Homo sapiens: one gene and its partners. The protein of the gene in region 3 purifies or fractionates together with the protein of the main gene of each other region. This does not show direct contact. Each region holds a gene or a part of one and is shown on either strand. Other genes may lie near its edges. The genes, in order: LMBR1, MSMO1 and CACNG6.

Region 1 (3,652 bases), on a different chromosome or scaffold from region 3:
TTGTTTTCTCTTCTAGACAAGTGTCTTAGTAAATAACTACTGCCCCAGAAAACTTGGTATAAAATTTGTGGATAGGCTGAACGTTCAGTTAAAGAAAGGATACAAAATCAAAATGATTTCAAGCGCAGCTCCCACAAAACCAAACGTAGAAAGAGAGGCATTTCCTATTCCAGGCCCCTGGGGTGGGAGAAAGACACTTTTCAGAATTTGATGACACCATTATATTGGTTTCCCTAAAACAGCTGTTTCATAAAATAAGACAGTTGAAATTATGAATGTTTACTACTTTGAAATAACATCTAGACTTTCAAAGGCCAACAAGACATGACATTAGACTGATTTCATCAACAAATTCAGGCACCATGTTAACAATTTTAATAAGCTCAAGAAAAATTACTTATCTCAAATGTAATTTAAGTTACTTGTCAAGATGACATGATTATGCTTACTGTTATAAAATGGGGCAACTTGCCACTTGAGGAAAAAAATCCTGAATAGTTTTGGGAAAGAGTTTTTAAAAACACAATAGAAAAATAAGAATAGGATACATAGCTATCTGAATGCTTACACAATATACAAAGATTACACAATTCAAGTATGTCAAAATTAAGCTAAGAGTAGAAAGAGAGTAAATGTGCATATCCTGTTCCCATACCTGAAAGTTTCCTTTGCCCAAATTTTCCTTGGGAATTCAGAGTTACAAAGGATGTAACTGTTAACATAGATTTTTAAAAAAGTAATGCTATAAATTTTTTCCTAAACAATTATCCCTATCTCAAAAACTATCTTTACCTAGAACTTAAAAAAAAAACACAAAAAAGTTACTATTTTTATAATTAGATCTGAAAAAATCATTCCCTACTGAAGTATTTTCAAAGATTACTAATAAAAGAAACTATCTGAATGTTTTACTAGTCAGCACAGATTACATCTAATAGAAACACCAGGGATAATTAAGAATCTACAGTCAGCCCAATAAAAAATAACTTTTTGACAATCTTTTGAAGAAGAAATAAATGATGCTGGTAGAAAGTGATGGGGTTCAAGACACACTACTCCAAAATTTGGGACCTGGTATTTGAGAAAACCTAGGAAGGTCACACACTGATCTGTCTCCTTCTCCTGCGAAGCAGGCCATAAGACCCCCATCCAAGGGTGCCCCCCGCAACCCACCCAGAGGAGAAGCACATGTTTATCTCCGGAGACACGAGGACACCGAGAAGAATATGAACAGGCCTTGCTAAATCCCCCCGGTTTATAATCATTAGATCACACCCCTGTCTTCCAATCATACTTCCCACTACTGTCCACTCTTCAACAAACCAGAGCATAAAAGTACACAGCTTTTTCTGTTTCTTTGGTCTTCTTTATTTCTGAAGACCCCTGTGATATGTAAAACTTATCTTAAATAAGTTTGTCAGCTTTTCTCTTATTAATCTTTTGTTATAGGCATCTCAGCCATGAACCTTCCAATAGGTTAGAAAAAGGTATTACTTCTTCTCCCCTACAGAAGCTTATTGATCAACAGAGATAATACTTTGGAATTATGCTATCTCAAGAGAAGCCATGTAGGAAGGATTAAGAGTATCTAATTTTTTTACACAATTATACAGGGATCTCCTATGACGTACAAGTCATTCTCCACTAAGCACTAAGGGGGATGGGTACAAAAATATACTATAGGGCTTGGGACTTGTTTTGTTGGTATAGTAAAATGGGTTAAAAGTGACTAGGAAGTCAGTATAGTAAGCGACTTCCTGTTCTATCAGTGGGTTTGGGTATAAAACTAAAGAAAAAGATAAGACTGTACATGGCAAAGGGTAGTTTCTTGTCTGTCTGTAGGATGAGGCACCTGGAGCATGATGGTGGGCTTGTACTCATGGAGAAGAGGCTGTAAGTGAATACAACAATGGCAATAACAGATGGCACAAGGTCCTGGAAAGACTCAGGTGGGGGGATCTGAATCAAGACTATGGCTAAAGGAATTTCATATAGCTAAATGAATTTCAGTAAAATCAAGATAAACTCTGATAAGAAATCTAAAAGGAAATTCCAACACTTGAAAAAAGGCCCTGTCAATCCAAAGTAAAAAATTAGAAACAAAAATCACAGTTTATATTTTAAAGGCTCTTTGCATAAAGAAATTCATACAACTTGAAGTATATACATGCACAAAGGTGAATGTTTTCATTTGCTTACTTGAAATACTCAGGGTATAGACATAGAATACTTTTGCAAAAGAAAGACATTTTAAAGGATTTTACTTTACCCTTGTTCCTTTTGGCATTGCTGTTTCATCAACCAATAGGCAAAGAATATTACAAGCCACCAAGAGGACCGAGATGGACTACAAGACAAACAGCAAACTGTCAGCTCTCAAGATTTTTCACCAATACAAAATATTAAAATCTAGGTAACCAAATACACGTTTCAGAATAGAGGGAAAGCAGTCAAGACCAAAACGCTATATATAAAACTAAAGTAATCAGACTACAAACAAGAACTGAAGAAATTCTAAAAGATTCTGCAAGTTATTGTCATTTCAAAGCTTGTGACAAAAGCTGGTAGTATATAGATCCTTTTACTAAGTGATCTCACCAATTGGAAACACACAACTCCACAGACTTAAAAAAGTGGTAAAATATTATCAGAACTAACTTCATAATGTAATTTTCATATTTTATCACAGAATTTAAAGCAGGTTATCTGCAACACCTTGTTTTCTTAATTTTCAATGAAAACAAAGACTGAATTTCCTGCTTTCATGAAGAAACAGATAATCTTCAGAATTTTTTTTAAATTGCCATTAATTTCCATTTTTGCTTTATTGGATTTTCATAAATAAAGGCATAGATGGATTTTAATCCTGTTGATAGAAAACTAGTTTATGAAAAACCATTTAGCTGAGGGAGCTGCCATACTCAAATGCTGAAGTAAATAAAATATAATTTGCTTTTATTTAACTAGGCAAATAAATTCTTACTGTCTCAATAAGAAGGAGAACCATAACAGCGGGATACACCAAATTTCTTTCCCATGCTGAAGCCTTTTTTCGCCTCTCTATTAAAAGGAAAAACAAAATAAAACAAAGTTTTCTCCAAATTAACATTTTCCTTCCATAATGCTATAATCTGTTTTATACATAATTTCTTTTTAAAAAACATAAATTACTTTTAATTTTCCTCCATAAACTAAAAAAACTACAGATAGGGCCTTGCTCTGTCACCCAGGCTAGAGCACAATGGTATAGCCGCAGCTCACTGCAACCTCCTAGGCTCAAGTGATCCTCCCATCTCAACCACCCAAGTAGCTGGGACTACAGATACATGCCACCATGCCTGGCTAATTTTTTTATTTATTTTTTGTGGAGACAGGTTCTTGCTATGTTGCCCAGGCTGGTCTTGAACTCCTGGGCTCAAACGATCCTCCCCGCTCAGCTTCCTAACATGGTGAGATTACAGGCACGAACTACGATACCCAGACAAAAATCAGAGTTTTAAAACCAGTTTGCTACATTAAACACCTCAATCCTGTGATGCGTAAATTTCAGCTCTGTGAAGACATCTCAATCATTAAGGAAATATATTGTTGATATACAGCTGACTCTGAAAATACAGACATACAGTAGGCCTTCTATAGCCACAGGTTCTGC
Region 2 (3,652 bases), on a different chromosome or scaffold from region 3:
CTGTGTTGCTCAATTCAGGAGCAACTAGTAACATGTGGCTTCCAAACACTTTAAACATGGCTAGTCTAAATTGAGATAGACTAAAATTAATGTAAAATACACACGGAATTGCAAAGACTTATTAAATATCTCATTAAGTATTTTTTAGAATTTGATTACTGATTGAAATAATAATTTACATTTATTTCTTATTTTTTTTGAGACAAGGTCTCACTCTGTCGCCTATGCTAGAGTATAGTGCTGCAATCTTTCTGCTTCAGCCTCATAAGTAGCTAGGACTTACATCACCATGCCTGGGTATTTTTGTATCTTTTTTGTAGAGACAGGGTCTTGCTATGTTTCCCAGGATGGTCTTGAACTCCTGGCCTCAAGCAATCCTCCTGCCTTGGCCTCCCAAAGTGCTGGAATTACAGGCATGGACCCTGCACCCAGCGATAGTTTACATTTATTGAGCTAAATGATACACATTATGAAATTAATTTCCTTATTTCTTTTTACCTTTTCTATGTATTCTACTAGAAAATTTAAAATTACATACGTGGCTTCATATTTCTATTGGATATCACTGCTTTAGCCTCACAAAACAAAGCCCTATGTACTTTTAAAATATTCAGCAACATTAATGATAATATTCTATTTCTAGTCCCTTATACTCACCTTTTGAATTTTGTATTTTTTCATATAAGGTATAAATTGAAATAAAAATCCAGGTAAACAGAATAAGAAATAAAGGGCTTCATGAACTATAAGGGATCCCCATGTTGCAATCTGGAACTTTGTATAATTATTCAACATATAGTTCCAAGCATTTTTAAATGGTTCTTGCAGAGGATTCTCAGGTAAAAGTGAATCTACATATTCCACAGCCAAGGATGCTGAACTAAAGATGCTGACACTTTCATTTGTTGCCATTTTTCAAATCTCTGCAGACAGCCTTATAATTCTGTAGAAATGAATACATATATAATAAGTTAAACAATGAGCTTTCAAAAAATAAAACAGTTAAAAAATGCATCCTCTGATCATTTTAAAAATGATAATTACTAAAGGAGTATAAATTTTTTACCAAAAAATTACTAAAGGAGTACAAATGGTTTTACACCATTTTAAAACATTTGCTGGATATCATCACCATTTCTATTTGTAGATATTCCTTTAAAAAACACATTATTTTCAAGAACAATAGCTAAAAGAACAATAGGGGAAAAATTTTTTCAAGCTATATTTAAAGAAATCGTCAGTGTGGTTCTCATGGAAAAGGTTCTAATTTAAATGAGCAATAGCTGGGTTTAAAAGTATCACTTAAAGCCAAAAGAACCTATAAAGAAAAAGCCTGCCAAATATGAGTATATAAAAATTAAGTACCTCCTACTGGGGAATAGAAAGACAAAGTCAAAGATTAAATGACAAACTGGGAAAAATATTTCCAACATTTTACAACAAAGGGCTACAAAGTGTGCTTTAGAAAAAAGACTAAAAAGACAACAGAAGAACGACAAATGCCATTCACAAGCAGTTCACAGAAAAATAAAGGCAAATGGTCACTAAACAAGGAAGAATCTTCACTTCATTAAATGAGGAAATGCACCCTAAAACAAAGAGACACTTTTAGCCTGAGTAGCAAATCTTTAAAAGCTTATTAATGTCCAGTACTGGTAAGAGGGTGAGAGAACAGGCATGACCACACACTGTGGGCAGGGGGGATACATCAGTGTATCATTGGAGGAAAAATTAGCAACACCTAATTCAAAATGAATACATCCTTTGATCCAGCAACTTTCTCATTCAAGGGTACAAAGACAGATCCGCTAAGATGGAAGGAAGCATTGCTTGTAGCAGCAAAAACAAAGAGGAAAAAATAAAAGCAAAACACAAATAAGCCATCAACAAGGTATGGGTTAAATAAATTAAGTCCTTCCATAGACAATTATACAGCCATTTAAAAGAACAGGGAAGATCTATACGCTCTACATAGAAAGATGTCTAAGATACAGTGTTAATCCAAGTAACAAGTTACAGAACAGTATGCATAGCAAGAGCCCCACTTAAGATTTTTTGAAAAGGATATGTATTTTATCTATGCACTTTTATGCATATGTATATACACAGACACACAGAAACAAAAAATGTACATATGGATAAAGGGAAAAATTCACACTGGTGACTTCTAGGAAAACAGAGTTGTGTGGCAGGGCAGGAGATAGTGTTAATGAAGACAGCGTGGCGGGGTAGGGGAGAGTGTTATGGAAGACAGCTCGGCGGGGTAGGAGACAGTGTGGTGGAGTAGGGGACAGTGTTATGGAAGACAGAGTGGCGACGGGGTAGGGGAGAGTGTTACGGAAGACAGAGCGCGGCGGGGTAGGAAATAGTGTTATGGAAGACAGAAAAAAAAATCTGACATATGTCTTTTGCACAATTTAAACTTTTTAAATGAGCATGTTCTACTTACCTAATAAATAAGCTCAATAGGTCACTAACCAAAAAATAAACTTCTCAAGGGTCACTTTCCTAAAAATGTTCACCACTGCTGCTTCTAATTTATGAATTTTTTGGACCATTTTAAAAATGAGTATTTTAAAGCCTCAGAAGCATTCTAAATAGTGCTTTAAAAGTCCCCTTCCCCAACACTTCTCAAACTGACCTTTTATCCCATTCTACAGAAGGAATATTGAGAACCTAGCCAACTCCTCCAGGCATCTGAATTCACTTCAGGCCGTCCTCCTTCTGTCCTACTCATCTCAAATGACTTACACCACAGTGACTATAGTGTTCCATCCTGTGTCATTACAGGCCTTAAAATTTCTTTGCTCATTCATTCTTTCCTCTAAGACTGACTAGTCTTCCTGTGTTCTTATCTTACCTCAAGAACTTGTCCATCACTTATCCTTTCCCATCTTTCATCCTTCTCCCTTCATGGAATCCATTCCTTCAGGTCTAAAAACACATTCACGTCTTTTCTTTTTTTTTTTCTTTTTTTTTGAGACAGGGTCTCACTCTGTCACCCAAGCTGGAGTGCAGTGGCACAATTATGGCTCATTGCAGCCTCGACCTCCCAGGCTCAAGCAATCCTCCCACCTCAGCCCCTCGTAGCTGGGACCACAGGCACATGCCACCACGCCTGGCTAATTTTTTTAATTTTTTGTGGAGACAGGGGTCACCCTATGTTGCCCAGACTGGTCTTAAACTCCTAGGCTCAAGTAATCCTCCCATCTCAGCCTCCCAAAGTGTGGGGATTATAGGTGTGAGCCACTGCGCCCAGCCTACATCTTCCTTTGTTGATAAACACCTTCCTAGCCTCCATTACCTCTTCCAAGCCACTGTCCCATTTATCTTTCTTTGAACCAACCAACTTCTTTCTCAAAGGAGAGCTCTACATAAAGATTGCTTAACTCAGCTGGGCATGGTGGCTCACGCCTGTAATCCCAGCACCTTGGGGAGGCTGATGCGGGCAGATCACCTAAGGTCAGGAGTTCAGGTGAATCGCTTGAAATGAGGAGGTGGAGGTTTCAGTAAGCTGTGACTGCACTCTAGCCTGGGCACCAACAGCAAAACTCCGTCTCAAAAAAAAAGAATAAAAAAGGTTGCTTAACTCACCCACACAACTCACTGAGCTACTTGCAATCTGGCTCCCCACCTGCACCAAAATGTCTTC
Region 3 (3,652 bases):
ACCAGTCTCCCTGTCTCTCTCCACACTCCTGTCACACTGGCTTTCTTTCAAGATCTGCAATGCAGCAAACTCTCCCAGCTTGTCTATCCATACTTTGACATCTTCAATGTCACCTCCCCAGAGAGGCCCTCTCTAAATCCCTGAGGACAGAACGATGAAAAAGATAAAGATGATGTCTGTTTTCATGGAATTTGTAGCTTGGTAGGAATTTGGTGCTGGCGTTATTATTAAACTCACACCTGCATTACCCCTGGGGGTGCACAGGAAGGTGTTGATATAAAAGTGTTTTATGAAAGTCTTGGCCGGGCGCGGTGGCTCACGCCTGTAATCCCAGCACTTTGGGAGGCCAAGGTGGGTGGATCACTTGAGGTCAGGAGTTGGAGACCAGCCTGGTCAACATGATGAAACCCTGTCTCTACTAAAAATACAAAAATTAGCCAGGCGTGGTGGCACACACCTGTAATCCTAGCTACTTGGGAGGCTGAGTCAGGAGAATTGCTTGAACCTGAGAGGCGGAGGTTGCAGTGAGCTGAGATTGTGCCACTGCACTCCAGCGTGGGCAACAAGAGCGAAACTCTGTCTCAAAAAAAAAAAAAGAAAGAAAAGAAAAGAAAACATTTGATCCAAGAAGAAAACCAAGGCCCAGAAAATAAAAGGAACCTTCCCAAGGCCACACAGTGATTCAGGGCACAGCTTGGGCTGGAACCTAGAGGCAGAGGTTGTAGTGAGCTGAAATCGTGCCACTGCACTCCAGCCTGGGCGACAGAGTGAGACTCCATCTCAAAAAAGAAAGAAAGAAAACCGAGTTTAAAATCCCACCTCTGCCATCATGCCATCATTGATTGTGTGCCCATGAGTAATTCATCTGACTTCTCTGAGCCTCAATTTCCTCATTTATAAAATGGGGGAAGCTGTGTGTGGTGGCTCATGCCTATAATCCCAGCACTTTGGGAGGCCAAGACAGGCAGATCACTTGACGTCAGGAGTTCGAGACCAGCCTGGCTTATGTGGTGAAACCCTGTCTCTACCGAAAAATACAAAAATTAGCCAGGCGTGGTGGTGCCTGCTTGTAATCCCAGCTACTTGGGAAACTGAGGCAGAAGAATCACTTGAACCCAGCAGGCGGAGGTTGCAGTGAGCCGAGATCATGCCATTACACTCCAGCCTGGGAGACAAAGGGAGACTCTGTCTCAAAAATAAATAAGTAAATAAAATGGGGGATAGTAAGCCCTGCCTAATAGTGCTGTTGTAAGGATTTGAACTGGAAGTACAATAAACTGAAGTGTTGTTTATTACTGAGGGCTACATTTCACAAGATGCAGCATTTTATTTAGACCTTCAGCTCCAAGAATGCAACAGTCCTTGCAGACCTCAAGTCTCAAATCTAAAAGAGCATTTAGAGACCATCAAATTCTGAGCCAACAATAGGGCTTGGAACTCTTCCACCTTTGAGCCTGCTATAGCCCCTGGGCTTCCCTGACCTCTCAACACGCTATAGTGCTTAAAACATCTCAGCATGAAACAGTGTTTGGGGACTCCATGTTCAAACCTTGAAAAGCGTTTGGACAGCTTCCAATTCCCAGCCAACAACAGGGCTTAGAACTCTCCAATTTTTGAGACCTCTATAGTCCTTGCGCTTTCTCTAATGCCTAGCATGCAACAGTGATTGGAAATCCCAGGTCCAAATCTAAAACAATGTTTGGACACCCTCCAATCCTTAGCCCGGTTGTTGGGGTTCTCCCATCTTTGAACCTACTATAGCCCTTGGGCTTCCCCTCAACTCCAAGCATGCAACAGGGCTTGGAGATCCCACCTCCCAGCGTGCAACAGTGTGTGGAGATCCTACTCCCAGCATGCAACAGTGTGTGGAGACCCTACTCCCAGCATGCAACAGTGCATAGAGATTCCATCTCTGAGCGTGCAACAGTGCATAGAGACCCCATCTCCCAGCATGCAACAGTGCCTGGAGATCCTCCCAGCATGCAATGTCCTCAGCCTCCAGGCTCTGAACCCTCACCTGAGAGGCCAAAGCAGACGGCTCCAACTCGGAGCAGGAACTCTGCACCTTTACTGAGCACCATGATGATACAGAGGCACCCCAAGGCCATGACTGCCAGGCCCAGCACTGCTATCACCGCAGCTGCCAGATTCACCTCTGCCAGCAGGAGAGAGGAAAGAAGCAGAGAACATGGGATGTAGGGAATGAGGAGGATTCACCCATAGGAACCCAGAACCAGGAAGATGTAAGATTCGGGACGAGAGAAGAATTTTCAAGTAGAGTATCATCCAGCCCAACATTTTACTTACACTGTTGAAGGAATTAAGACTCAGAAAGGGTCAGTTATTTCTCTAAAGTCACTGAGCAAAGGGAGGAGAGGGCCAGGATTAGAAAGAGTTGAGAATTACCAACTATTACTTAGGATCTGGTTACCACTGGTTTACAGTTGAGGAAGCTGAGGCAGTGGGGTGTGTGGGAGACGATGGCAAAGGCAGTGTGCTACAGTGGAATGATCCAGGTTGGAAATCTCACCAACTACTTCCTACATGGAAGATTCTAGTAGGATTTTCCAGATTCCAGTAGGAATTTAGGCTGAACCCTTCTCAGCCTAAATTTCCTCCTGTGGACCAGGTGCGGTGGCTCACACCTATAATCCCAGCACTTTGGGAGGCCAAGGTGGGTGGATCACTTGAGATCAGGAGAGTTCAAGACCAGGCTGGCCAACATGGTGAAAAATTTTCCTGGGAAGAATAATTGTAACCATTCCTGGACTTCTGGAAGATGGAAGATAAAGCCCCCACCCTGCAGGGCTACTGCGAGGACTGGAGATCTTACAGATGGAGTGCCCAGCACTGTGGTCAGTACTTGATGCCTGCAGGTTTGTGAGATGTCCAAGTGCTACCCACAGAGAGGGGCTGCGACTTGCCCGGGGTGACACAGAACGTGGCATAGGCAGAGATGGGGTAAGAGCTCTAGGCACAGCTAGGTGCAGTGGCTCACGCCTGTCATCCCAGCACTTTGGGAGGCTGAGGAGAGGGATCACCTGAGGTCAGGAGTTCAAGACCAGCCTGGTCAACATGGTGAAACCCCATCTCTACTAAAAATATAAAAATTAGCTGGGCATGATGGTGGGCGCCTATAGTCTCAGCTACTCAGGAGGCTGAGGTAGGTGAATTGCTTGAACCTGGGAGGCGGAGGTTGCAGTGAGCCGAGATTGTGCCACTGCACTCCAGCCTGGGTGACAGAGCAAGACATCATCTCAAAAAAAAAAAAAAAAAAGAGTTCTCTAGATTCTCTAGAGCACCATGTCCCCATCATTAACTCTCCCGCCAGCACTCCCCAGGGGACAGCCACAGATTATAGACACGAGACCTGCCCTGGGGTAAAGCAGAGGAGGGGATAACTCTCTCTAGAACTCCTCCAGCACGCTCAGCATTTCCCCCACCTGTCACCCAGCAGGGGGTGAAAAGTTCTCACCTTTCTTTGTGGTTCTCTGAAAGATGCGTGCATTCTCCCCCGTGGTGAAGAATTTAAAATAGGTGCAGTTTGCTTCTGTGGGAGCAGGAGAGAGAAAACAGACATGAGGATGTGAGGTCCCTTGCGTAAGCTCAGGGCTGGACAGTTAACAGCCCACGGGAGCCTAAAACTTGGACA

The links.
Region 1: the proteins of CACNG6 (region 3) and LMBR1 purify together in Homo sapiens (affinity purification with mass spectrometry; one large-scale study listed by BioGRID and IntAct). This does not show direct contact.
Region 2: the proteins of CACNG6 (region 3) and MSMO1 purify together in Homo sapiens (affinity purification with mass spectrometry; one large-scale study listed by BioGRID and IntAct). This does not show direct contact.

Annotation. Positions count from the first base shown.
Region 1 is NC_000007.14:156,725,661-156,729,312, forward strand, and holds part of LMBR1 (limb region 1 protein homolog), read right to left. Parts: intron 3,061-3,652; coding exon 2,984-3,060; intron 2,348-2,983; coding exon 2,270-2,347; intron 178-2,269; coding exon 104-177; intron 1-103. UniProt on the Homo sapiens protein: Putative membrane receptor.
Region 2 is NC_000004.12:165,330,631-165,334,282, reverse strand, and holds part of MSMO1 (methylsterol monooxygenase 1), read right to left. Parts: intron 944-3,652; 5' UTR 913-943; coding exon 658-912; intron 1-657. UniProt on the Homo sapiens protein: Catalyzes the three-step monooxygenation required for the demethylation of 4,4-dimethyl and 4alpha-methylsterols, which can be subsequently metabolized to cholesterol.
Region 3 is NC_000019.10:53,998,137-54,001,788, reverse strand, and holds part of CACNG6 (voltage-dependent calcium channel gamma-6 subunit), read right to left. Parts: intron 3,551-3,652; coding exon 3,476-3,550; intron 2,156-3,475; coding exon 2,018-2,155; intron 1-2,017. UniProt on the Homo sapiens protein: Regulates the activity of L-type calcium channels that contain CACNA1C as pore-forming subunit.